Regions from separate parts of the Homo sapiens genome. Here region 2 is linked to region 1. The links come from fine-mapping of genetic effects on gene expression. A gene starts in region 1. The other region holds a variant in brackets. All regions are shown on one strand. Distances are between the middles of the regions.

Region 1 (5,477 bases):
GTGGATGGCAGAGGGGAGAGGCACTCTCCGGCCGGGAACCTCCAGGGCCCATCCCTGGCTGCTGCTGTGGTTAGTCCACTGAGGGCACGGTGTGGTAGCACCGGACAGCTCCCCACCCGCCCCACCTGGTCCCCTGAGCCCAGGGCCAAATGGGGAGGAAAGAGGATTCTGAGAAAGAGGCAATAAGCAGGCAGTGAGGCTGACCTCAGCCCCGGGCCCGGCCGAGGTGACCGGGCCTGTTGCAGGACCAGGGGAAGCATTACTAAAGGATCTGGGGCTCTGCACTCTGGCTCCATGCACAGCGGGTGCCCAGAGAGTCCTCTGCCCTGGGGTGGTGCTGCCAATCTAGGTTGGGGGCACAGCTAGGTCCAGTGACTCAGCTTTGATGTCCAAGACCTCGAACTCCCGCCTGCCTGGCGTGGTTCTTCCTGGTCACATGAACCAGATCGTGTTCCAAGTGGAGGATGTGGCTCTGCACGCGGTCATCAATGGGGAAGGAGGTCAGGTACCTCTTGACCATGGCAAAGTAAGCCATGGCCTCCCCAAAGCTGGGTACAGGCACCTCATCACCATCCTCCTCATCATCATCGTCGTCTTCATCTTCATCATCCTCTTCCTCATCGTCCTCTTCCTCACTGTCTGAATCAGAGTCCTCCCCACCTTCCAGGAAATGCAGAGTAGGGCACTGGGCTTCCTCCTGGGCACCATAAGCCCCGAAGCTGCCACCGGCCTCCACTACTCCCTGGGCCCAGTCCTCAGCCTCCAAGCCCTCCGAGGAGCTCTCCTCATCTTCCTCCTCTTCTTCATCACTATCAACATCACCCTCCTCCTCCACCTCCTCTTCCTCCCCCAATTCCTCTCCTTCCCCCCCTTCCTCCTCCTCCTCCTCCCCTTCCTCCTCCTCTTCCTCTCCTTCACCCTCTTCCTCCTCCTCTTCTTCCTCCTCCTCCTCCTCTTCCTCTCCCTCACTCTTGAGGGAAGTGGTGATGGTGGCATTAGGGCCACCCCCAAAGCCAGCCTCACGAAAGCAGGCGGCTATGTCCGAAGGCTCCACTGCCTGCCAGGCGGCAGCCACAAAGTGCAGGGCCTCCGTGAGACCCAGCTGCAGGCCTGAGGGATCCTGGCCCTCTAGCGCGGCCATGGCCTTGAGCAGCATGGCCTGGCGGTAGTGGCCCTTCACCTGCTGGACCACTCCCCTCTCCAGCGGATGCACGGTGCCGGGAGGGAAGAAGGCCAGCTGCACATGCCGCAGGCCCGAGGTGTCCAAGGACTGGGCAGCCAAGCGGCCGGCCAACAGCAGGACCCGGCGAGACTCTGCAGCCATTCGGGTGTCCAAGGCCTTCAAGTACTTGGCCAGGGCCTGGGTGGTGACACCACCCTTGGAGTTGGCGGTGTAGTCGCAGGGCAGGCCGGCTTGGCCTGCGCGGGGCTTGGCCGACTTGCCGGCCACCAGCGGGGGCAGCTTCTCGCTGCCGTCGGCATTGGCGCATAGCAGGACGCTCAGGCGCTGGGTGGCTTGACGCGGCCGTCCGTCGCCTCCGCACAGCCCCGCGGCCTGGTCGGGCAGGAAGTCGTACCATAGACTGGTCTCGGTGGCGCTGAACACGTCCTGCGAGGCGTAGCCCTCGGCCACCGACGGCGGCTGCTCCTCCCGAGCGCGCCAACCAGTAGTGCTCCCGCCACTGCCCTCCGAGGGCACCGCGGCCGGACTGGCAGGCGCCGCCGGGGTGCGGGGGGCAGCGTTTCGCGCGCGGGCGCGGGCCACGCCGCTGCAGGACACCACGCCGTGGCGCCGGCGGAAGCGGTCCAGCCAGCCGTTGGAGGCGGTGAAGTCGTCCATGCCCAGCTCCTCGGCTATGCGCAGCGCCTTCTCCTTGAGGATGATGCCCTTGACCGGCAGGCCGGCGGCGCGGATCTGCTGGAACCAGGCGATGAGCAAGCCCTCGAGCTTGTCGTAGGGAGACAGCTTGTTGGTCTTGCGGCAGGTGGAGGCCACCCCGTACTTGCGCTCCGACGCCAGGATGGCGCGCTTGTTCTTCAGGATCGTGCTCAGCGTGGACGGCGGGATGTTGAAGCGCCGCGCGATCTCGCCCTTGCGCAGGTCCGGATTCTCCTCCACCTCCTGGATGATCCGTGACTTCTCCCGGAACGTCAGCTGTCGCCTCTTGGGGCCCATCCCGGCGCGCCCCCCGCCCCGGGGCCCGGCGCCGCCGCCGCCGCCCCGGGGCGGGGGGCCCGGGCCCGTGGCGGGGGGCACCTGGCGGCCTCTCCCGCGCGCCCCGCCCGAGACAAAGCGGCTCGCGGGCGCGGCGGCGGGGCGACGACCCGGCCGGGCCGGGGGCACCTCCGGGGACGCCGGCGGGCGCGTCGCCGGGCGGCGGGCGGCAGGCGACGGGCGCAGACGAGGGCGGGCGGCGCGGGCGCGGAAGGCAGGAAGTGCCGCGGCGCGGGGAGCTGGGAGCGCGGCGAGCGGGGCGGAGCGGGCGGAGCGGGATCTCGCGGGAAGCGCGGGGACGCCCGGCGCCTCCTCCCCGCCCTCCGCGCCCACCCCCTTCCCGCCGCCGGGACATACCGCGGGGGGGCGCTGCGGCCTGCTGGACCTGCCCGTGCTGCGGCCTCCGGCGACCCGGCAGCGACGCGGGCGGGGACGCGGTGCATCGCTACTGCGCCCGGCGGACAGCGACTTGCTGCTCAAAAAGAATAAGAACCAGGGTTTTTGTTTGTTTTTTTTTTTTTTAATTAAGGTAAAAATAACGCACTTTTTTTTTTGCGGAACCTGAAAAATTCAAGAAGTTGAAAAACGCTTTTCACGTCACCTGGAGAGATGCACAGGTAACATTTTGATACATTTCCTTCCAGTCTTTTCTCTAGATGCATGTCGTTTTCTTTTTAAAAATTTATTATATAAAACTGGCATCAGACTGTATAGACTGTATATCTGGCATCTCCTGCTGTTTTACCTGGCATCAAGTAGTGAGAATTTTGCCATATCGGTAAGTATCATTGCCAACACGCTTTTTAATGATTGTGTAGCATTCCAGCTATGAATGAACACTAGCGTATGTAACCTATTGTTACACACTTAAGTTATTTTTAAAATCAGCATTACAGTTGTAAATCTATTTGATGGTGCTAATGACATTTTTAAAGTTCTAGTAATCCCACAACCCATAGATAAACACTCATAACATCTTGGTGTGTCACTTTCTGGGCTTTTCCATGCATATAGCCATAAATGTATGTGTTTGCACTTACAGAAATAACATCATGTATATACATAAGTGTGAATCCCTGAAGCCTCCCTCTCCTGCAGCAAAACATTAAAATGCCAAGCTCTTAAAACAATGAATGTATAGCTGTGTTTTTAAAAATCTCTTAGGGCAGCACTAAGGGGAACTCCAGCATTGGCAGAGGGGAAGGCTGTGACCCAGGGGGACAGGCTGAGGACCTGGGGCTGGATGAAGCTGTGGGTGAGTGTAGACAAAGAAGAAAAGAGGACCAAGGACAGTGCCCTGGGTCCTCCAAGGTTAAGGGCTCAAGAAAGAGGCCAGGTGCAGTGGCTCACGTCTGTAATCCCAGCACTTTAGGAGGCCGAAGCAGGCGGGACCACTTGAGATCAGGAGTTCAAGACCAGCCTGGCCAATATAGTGAAACTCCGTCTCTACTAAAAATACAAAAAATTAGCCAAGTGTGGTGGCACTCACCTGTAGTCCCAGCTATTCGGGAGGCTGAGGCAGGAGAATCGCTTGAGCCTGGGAGGCAGAGGTTGCAGGGAGCCAAGATCATGCCACTGCACTCCAGCCTGGGCAAAAGAGTGAGACTCCATCTCAAAAAAAAAGAAAGAAAGAAAGAAAGAACCAAATAGAGACTCTTGAAGTGGAGGAGCCCCTGAAGCAGGAGAAAAACCAGGCTACTGTGGCATTCTGGAAGCCAAAGGAAGAAAGTGTAACTCACTGCTGTTTTAGTGCAAATTTCTGTTTTCGTATGTTTCTTGGCCATTTGAATCCTGTGAATTTTCTAGTCATATCCTTTGACCATGTGTTTGTCTTTTTCTTGACTTTTAGGAGCTCTTTACATGCTCTGAAGAAAAGATCTTGTTAAGTATGTTGCAAATGTTTTCTCCCTGTCTGCCACTTGTCTAAGTTAGTTTAGGGAATCTTTTGGATATGAGAAGTTTTTAATCTTCAACCTGTCAATTTTTTCCTTATTGCTTCGGGGTTTTGTGTCTTACTTAGAGAGGACTTCCCTATCCCTGAGATATAAAAGATATTCTTTTAATCTCAAGGTCCAAAAGAACACGTGGGAGACTTTTCCAGAGCACTGCTTGGCCCAAGAGGAGTGTGTGGTCACTGGGCAAAAATGAATCTAAGATTACCTGGATGAGAACTCCTTGCCATGCATCTTTTCTTTCTTTCCTCTCTTTCATCCTTTTCCTTGTTTCTTTCCTTCCTTCCTTCCCTTCTTTCTTTCTCTTTCTCTCTTTTCCTTCCTTTCCTTCTTTCTTTCCTTCCTTCCTTCCCTTCTTTCTTTCTCTTTCTCTCTTTTCCTTCCTTTCCTTCTTTCTTTCCTTCCTTCCTTTCTCTTCCTTTCCTTTCCTTTCCTGTGGCCCCTCCTTAGTGCCATACAAAGGGCATTGGCACAATTACTTCTAGGACAGAAAAGCCACGCCCATCATATGCTGATGTCATAGCCATTTCCAGATACCTCGTCTACCCTTTGCCTGTAGCAGTGCACGGGGCCCATTTCCATCCCCTCTCAAGTGACCATTTCCCCCAGCAATCCATCTGAGGCCCCGGGCTTCCCCACCTCTTTCTGTAAGTCCCAGCTTTCTGCTTTTAGGACTGTTTGGGAAATCCATAACTCACCTTCTCTTCTTTTGGTCCAGCCTGCCCAGAGCTGTCCTTCAGGCCCCTCAGCAAGCTTTCCATTCTCCTTTTGTTTATTTGAGACAGGGTCTAGCTCTGTCACCCAGGACGGAGTACAGTTGCACGATCATAGTTCATTGCAGCCTCAGTCTCCTCAGTAGCTAGGACTACAGGCATGAGGCACCATGCCTGGCTAATTTTTAATTTTTTTTTTTGAGACGGAGTCTCACTGTGTTGCCCAGGCTGGGAGTGCAGTGGCGTGATCTCAGCTCACTGCAACCTCCTCCTCCCTGGTTCAAGCAATTCTCCTGCTTCAGCCTCCTGAGTAGCTGGGATCACAGGTGTACACCACCATACCTGGCTTAGTTTTGTATTTTTAGTACAGACAGGGTTTCACCATGTTGGCCAGGCTAGTCTCAAACTCCTGACCTCAAGTGATCTGCCTACCTTGGCCTCCCAAAGTACTAGGATTGCAGCCGTGAGCCACCTCACCCGGCCAAAAAATAATAATAAATAATAAAAATAAAGAGAACAACATTGGGCGCGGTGGCTCATGCCTGTAATCCCAGCACTTTGGGAGGCCGAGGTGGGCAGATTACGAGGTCAGGAGAT
Region 2 (5,256 bases), 25 kb before region 1:
CACCTCCACAGACCAGCCTAAGGAGTCAGCAGGGCTCTGCAGGGGTCCTGCTAGGGCTTGCGTGAGCCCCAGAACCTGGCACAAACACTGACATAGTCCCAATCACATTCGCACACCAGCACACACGCACTCACACATGCACACACACACACACAGGTGGTGCGGGCCCTACCTGCAGCAATGGCCCTCCTACCAGGGCCCACCGGAAGAGCTTGTGCAAGTCCTACCACGCCAGGAAGGCACTTACCCTTGTTGGCTGCAGCCATGGACGCCCTCCCTGCCACGCAGCTCCTGCCAGACACCGCCACTCACGCTCAGCAGCCTCCCATGCTCCAGGGACACCAGCGGGAGCCTGAAGGATAGGGAGTGGGGAGGGCAGGGGTCAGGGCCACTCATGGACCCATGGCTCAGGGACACCAGAGGAGCTCCCTTTAGGAAGGACTCAAACCCCTACCGCTCTCAGCAGCCCAAGTGGTGCCTGTACTCTCTAGCACGGGGGCTTCTGCCCACCCTCTACCGACTGCCCACATTCACCAAGAGCCCTCACCCCTTCCTGATACCCCAGTGACTCAGGGTCCTGCCAGCATGTGCTGAGCTGCAGCTTCTAGGTGCCAAAGCAACAGCATAGGACTCCTATCCCCAGCACCCCCAGAGACTGGCAGGAGGGGCAGCCTGGAAAGGAGGACTTTATTGGTATTTTCCAGGGACCAGTTCTGGTGCTGCTGACCCCAAAGGCTGGGCCTGGAGCTACCTTATTCAGGTCACACAAGCAATGCAGCTGGGTGCGGTCAGAGGCAACAGGGTGCTCGATGGTGGGCAAGAACAGGGGACCACATAAAGTAAGCGTGCCCTTAGAGCTTTCCCTCCTGGTGATCGGTCAGGGCCATATGCAAAACAGATGCCTGTGGAGGGGGTGTGCCCCCACCTGAACCCCATTCAGACCCTGCCCTGAGTCTCAGGCCTGCCTCCGCCTCAGCTCCCCAACGGCAGCCTCAGCACAGGGGCAGTGAGAGGCGCCCCAGGAAGCCTCCAATGGGCCGAGCTGGGACCATCTGAGCATCAAAAAGAATAATGAGTGCAACTGATGGAAACAGATGGAACACATAAAAGCAGTGCATTCACAGAGATTATTAGAAAAGAAGAGAGAAAGCAAAACAAACAAACCCAAGCCCTCAAAAGCCCTCATTTGTCACCACTGACGGTAGCAGTGCCCTCTTTACTCTGAAAGCTGAGGATTAAAGAGGAAGAATTCAGCCTGTCTCTTGGCCTTTCTTGTAACCAAATTGCCCTGGTGGTTGATGGAAAGCTCTTCTTTCGGAAAGAATTCTTGCTAATAAATAACAAAGAAATGACCAAATGCTAAGTCATTCTGCAACCCCTAAAGGAACAAATGCTGGAGGCAACAAGAACCAGTGGATGCTAAACCAGAGGGGAAGGTTGACAGGAAGCAGATACTCACAGGCGCCCAAGCGTCACTGACAGAGGACCTGGTATGGTTTTTGTTTTTTTTTTTTTTCTGAGACGGAGTTTCACTCTTGTCACCCAGGCTGGGATGCAATGGCACGATCTCGGCTAACTGCAACATCTGCCTCCTGGGTTCGAGCGACTCTCCCACCTCAGCATCCCGAGTAGCTGGGACTACAGGCGCCCGCCACCACGCCTAGCTAATTTTTGTATTTTTAGTAGAGACAGGGTTTCACCATGTTGGCCAGGCTGGTCTCGAACTCCTGACCTCAAGCAATCCGCTCACTTCGGCCTCCCAAAGTGTTGGGATTACAGGTGTGAGCCACCATGCCTGGCCGAGGACCTGGTGTTTAAGAGGAATGGCACAAGTTTGCAATGGAGGTATGTGACTTCTCCCAGTCACACACTGGTCTATCTCTCTACTCTCTGCAGGACAGCCTGTCACACTGATGCCTCCTGAAGTAAGGCAGCCCAAAGTCACAGCATCACTGACAAGGGATTCCTGCCAAAAAGGTTTAACCTGGAATCTAAACCAGCCTCTAACTTCAACTTCTCATTTGCTAAAAACACAGAGGAGAGGGGAACAAATTTAATGACTCCATGAGAAAGCAATGAGACGAGCCCAGAAGGCAGGATATTCTACAGGATGACTGACCTGTTTTTTGTTTTTGTTT[T/C]TGTTTTCAAATGTCAAGAAGAAAAAGAAAGCAGGCTGGGAACGGTGGCTCACGCCTGTAATCCCAGCACTTTCACGGATCACAAGGTAAGGAGTTCAAGACCAGCCTGGCCAACATAGTGAAACCCAGTCTCTACCAAAAGTACAAAGATTAGCCGGGTGTGGTGGCGGGCAGCTGTAGTCCCAGCTAGTTGGGAGGTTGAGGCAGGAGAATCACTTGAATCCGGAAGGCGGAGGTTGCAGTGAGCCAAGATCGCGCCACGGCACTTCAGCCTGGGTGACACAGCGAGACTCTGTCTCAAGAAAAAAAAAAAAGAAAGAAGAAAAATAAAACGAGGGAGATTATTCTAGATAGGAAAGCAGCAAACTACAGCTGATTACACAGCTGATGGTAAGGTTGCTGCCTGTTGTGTTTTTGTTTTTGTTTTTGAGACAGGGTCTCACTCTGTCCAGCCCAGGCTGGAGTCCAGCTCACTGCCACCGTAATCTCCCAGGCTCAAGCAATCCTCCCACCCCAGCCTGCCAAGTAGCTGAGACCACAGCCACGCACCACCATGCCCGGCTAATTTTTGTAGAGACAGAGTTGCCCAGGCTGGTCTCAAACTCCGGAGCTTAAGCGATCCACCCACCTCAGCCTCCCAAAGTGCTGGGATTACAGACGTGAGCCGCCAGGCCTGGCAAATAAATTTTTGCAAATAAAGTTTTACTAATAGAACACTACACTTCATTCACTTACATGTTGTCTGTTTTTGCACTAAAACAAAGTTACTTCCAAGTAGTTATGATAGAGACCATATGGCCTGCAAAGTCTAAACCATTTATTATTTGGCCCTTCAGAGCAAAAGTTTGCCAACCCTTGTTCTAGATCAACACACACTTAACAGACCAAAAAAGGATAATCTTCAGGACAACTGACCTGTTTTTTTCACCACATCAGCTGCAAGAAGAAAAATAAAGGAGAGGGTGTTTCGAACTACCTATCAAAGAAGACATTTTGGGGGGTGCCGGGCGCTGCGGCTCACACCTGTAATCCCAGCACTTTGGGAAGCCAAGGCGGGTAGATCACCTGAGGTCAGGAGTTTGGGACCAGCCTGGCCAACATGGCGAAACCCCATCTCTACTAAAAATACAAAAATCAGCTAGGCATGGTGGTGTGCACCTGTAATCCCAGCTACTCAGGAGGCTGAGGCAGGAGAATCGCTTGAACCTGGGAGGCGGAGGTTGCAGTGAGCCAAGATCCCGCCACTGCACTCCAGCCTGGGTGACAGAGCGAGACTCTGTCTCAAAAAAAAAAAAAAAAAAAAGGCCGGGTGAGGTGGCTCACGCCTGTAATCACAGCACTGTGGGAGGCTGAGGCGGGCGGATCACCTGAGGTCGGGAGTTCAAGACCAGCCTGGCCAACATGGAGAAACCCTGTCTCTACTAAAAAATACAAAATTAGCCAGGCGTGGTGGCGCATGCCTGTAATCCAGCTACTCGGGAGGCTGAGGCAGGAGAATCGCTTGAACCCAGGAGGCGGAGGTTGCGGTGAGCCGAGATTGCGCCACTGCACTCTAGCCTGGGCAAAAGGAGCAAAACTCCGTCTCAAAAAAAAAAAAAAAAAGACATTTGGGGGATCTGGAAAATGTAAATGGCCTGGATATGAGGTAACACTAAGAAATGAGTTGATCATGGAATTGTATTATGTAAAGAATTATGTCCTTATTTTGTCAGGGAAACATACTGAACAACTTAGAGATGAGTGACACTGGCTCATCAGTCCAGGGACAGAAGAGGAACTACAGGGTGGCCTCATAGTTTAGGGCTGGGCCTGTGGAGGGCATGATCTCAAGGTCCCTCTGGTGCCAAGCTGCTCTGGGAGCAGATGTGGCCTCACCTCGCTCCCCACTTCTCAATGTGGGCAAAGTCCACCCAGGCCCAAGCCCTGCCTCATGGGCAGGGTGTTCACAGTTTGGGTACCACCAGGAGCCCCCTTTGGCCAATGGACCAGGCCAGCAACCCCCTCTTGGAGGTGAGCTTCCAGGCCCCAGCCCAGGGTGCAGGAAGTGGAGCTACACCCATTCACCTCTGGCCAGGGCCACTGTGGGGTCAGTTGCCTCAGCCCTGGAAAGCTCAGCTTGTCCCCAGGGAACTTGGTCTTGGAGAGCAGCCTGCCGTAACCGCCCCCCGACTACAGCTGCCCCCAAAGCTGTGAACTCAGAGTATATGACAAATGGCCAAGCACAAGAGTGTGAGGCCCTCCTATCCTGCAGAGGCTGCTCCAGCCACACCTCTGCAGCCAGGAGGCAGTGACAGCCCAGTGTCCTCAAGGTCCCCCCATCTCCCAGGATGCTTCCTGAAGGCTCTGGTTAAACTGCACCAGTGGCTGGTGAGCAAAGGCTGCAGGCCCTTTTCACAAAACACTCTGAACTGGTCCATGCAGGGCACCCTCCCTGTCTTCCTCCCAACCTACTGCCTGACCGTCCCCCCGCCCTGCCTTTGCCCAGGTCATCCCTTCAGCCAGGAACAATCCCGTCCCTCCCAGCCACACCTTCGACAGGGTCTCAGCCCCAACATTTCTTTTTTAAGGATGCACACCCTGCAAATCCCAGGACAGGACTACAGCTCTTTTTGGAATCCCCTTTCTCATGTCTGGGATCATTTGATATCCCTCTTCCTCACCTTACAAGGGTAGTGACTGTGTTTTTGTCAAACCCTGTGTCCCCGGCACTCAGCGCAGCACCAGACAGGGAGGAGCTGTGTTTGGTTTATGTTTGTTGAATGAATGACCACATCACATTTGCTTGGAGGGCCTGGCCAAGGCCCGTACTTCAGCCCTAAATGATATGGTCAGGGCCAGTGACTGCACTGGGGGCTCTGAGGAAGCAGAACTCCCCACCCCACTCTTTTGCCTCACCCCTGCCCTGGGGGGCACTTCCCTCTCCCTGGCCCCCACCAAGTGGCCTCCCACTGGGACTCCTCAGGCCTTGCTGCAGTCAGCTGGTTACCTGTCCATGCCTGCTTTGAGAGGGACATGCCCCATGCCCACTGAGGGTAGGACCCACATCTCATGCAGTGCCAGTACTCAGTAAAGGGCAAACACTGAGGGCCTGTAACCCTCTGGATAGTGACAACATAGA

Evidence for each region. PIP is the estimated chance that this variant, and not a neighbour inherited with it, causes the effect. A credible set is the group of variants that fine-mapping cannot tell apart.
Region 2: its variant is the best candidate, but not a certain one, in a credible set for the expression of CENPB in whole blood (INTERVAL, PIP 0.60).

The regions. Positions count from the first base shown.
Region 1 is chr20:3,784,308-3,789,784 of GRCh38, forward strand. CENPB (centromere protein B) reads right to left here and starts at 2,433. Exons shown (of 1, transcript NM_001810.6): 1 at 1-2,433. The coding sequence starts at 2,176. The coding sequence ends at 377. It also overlaps a transcript of CDC25B not described here. RefSeq lists enhancers at 1,129-1,839, 1,805-1,944, 1,840-2,549 and a silencer at 2,385-2,734.
Region 2 is chr20:3,759,835-3,765,090 of GRCh38, forward strand. It overlaps ADISSP (adipose secreted signaling protein), which reads right to left. Exons shown (of 6, transcript NM_001258429.2): 2 at 248-352. The coding sequence starts at 266. Among named protein-coding and RNA genes, the nearest start is that of ADISSP, 5.3 kb to the right of the region's middle. The variant T/C (reference allele first, on the strand shown) is at 2,139.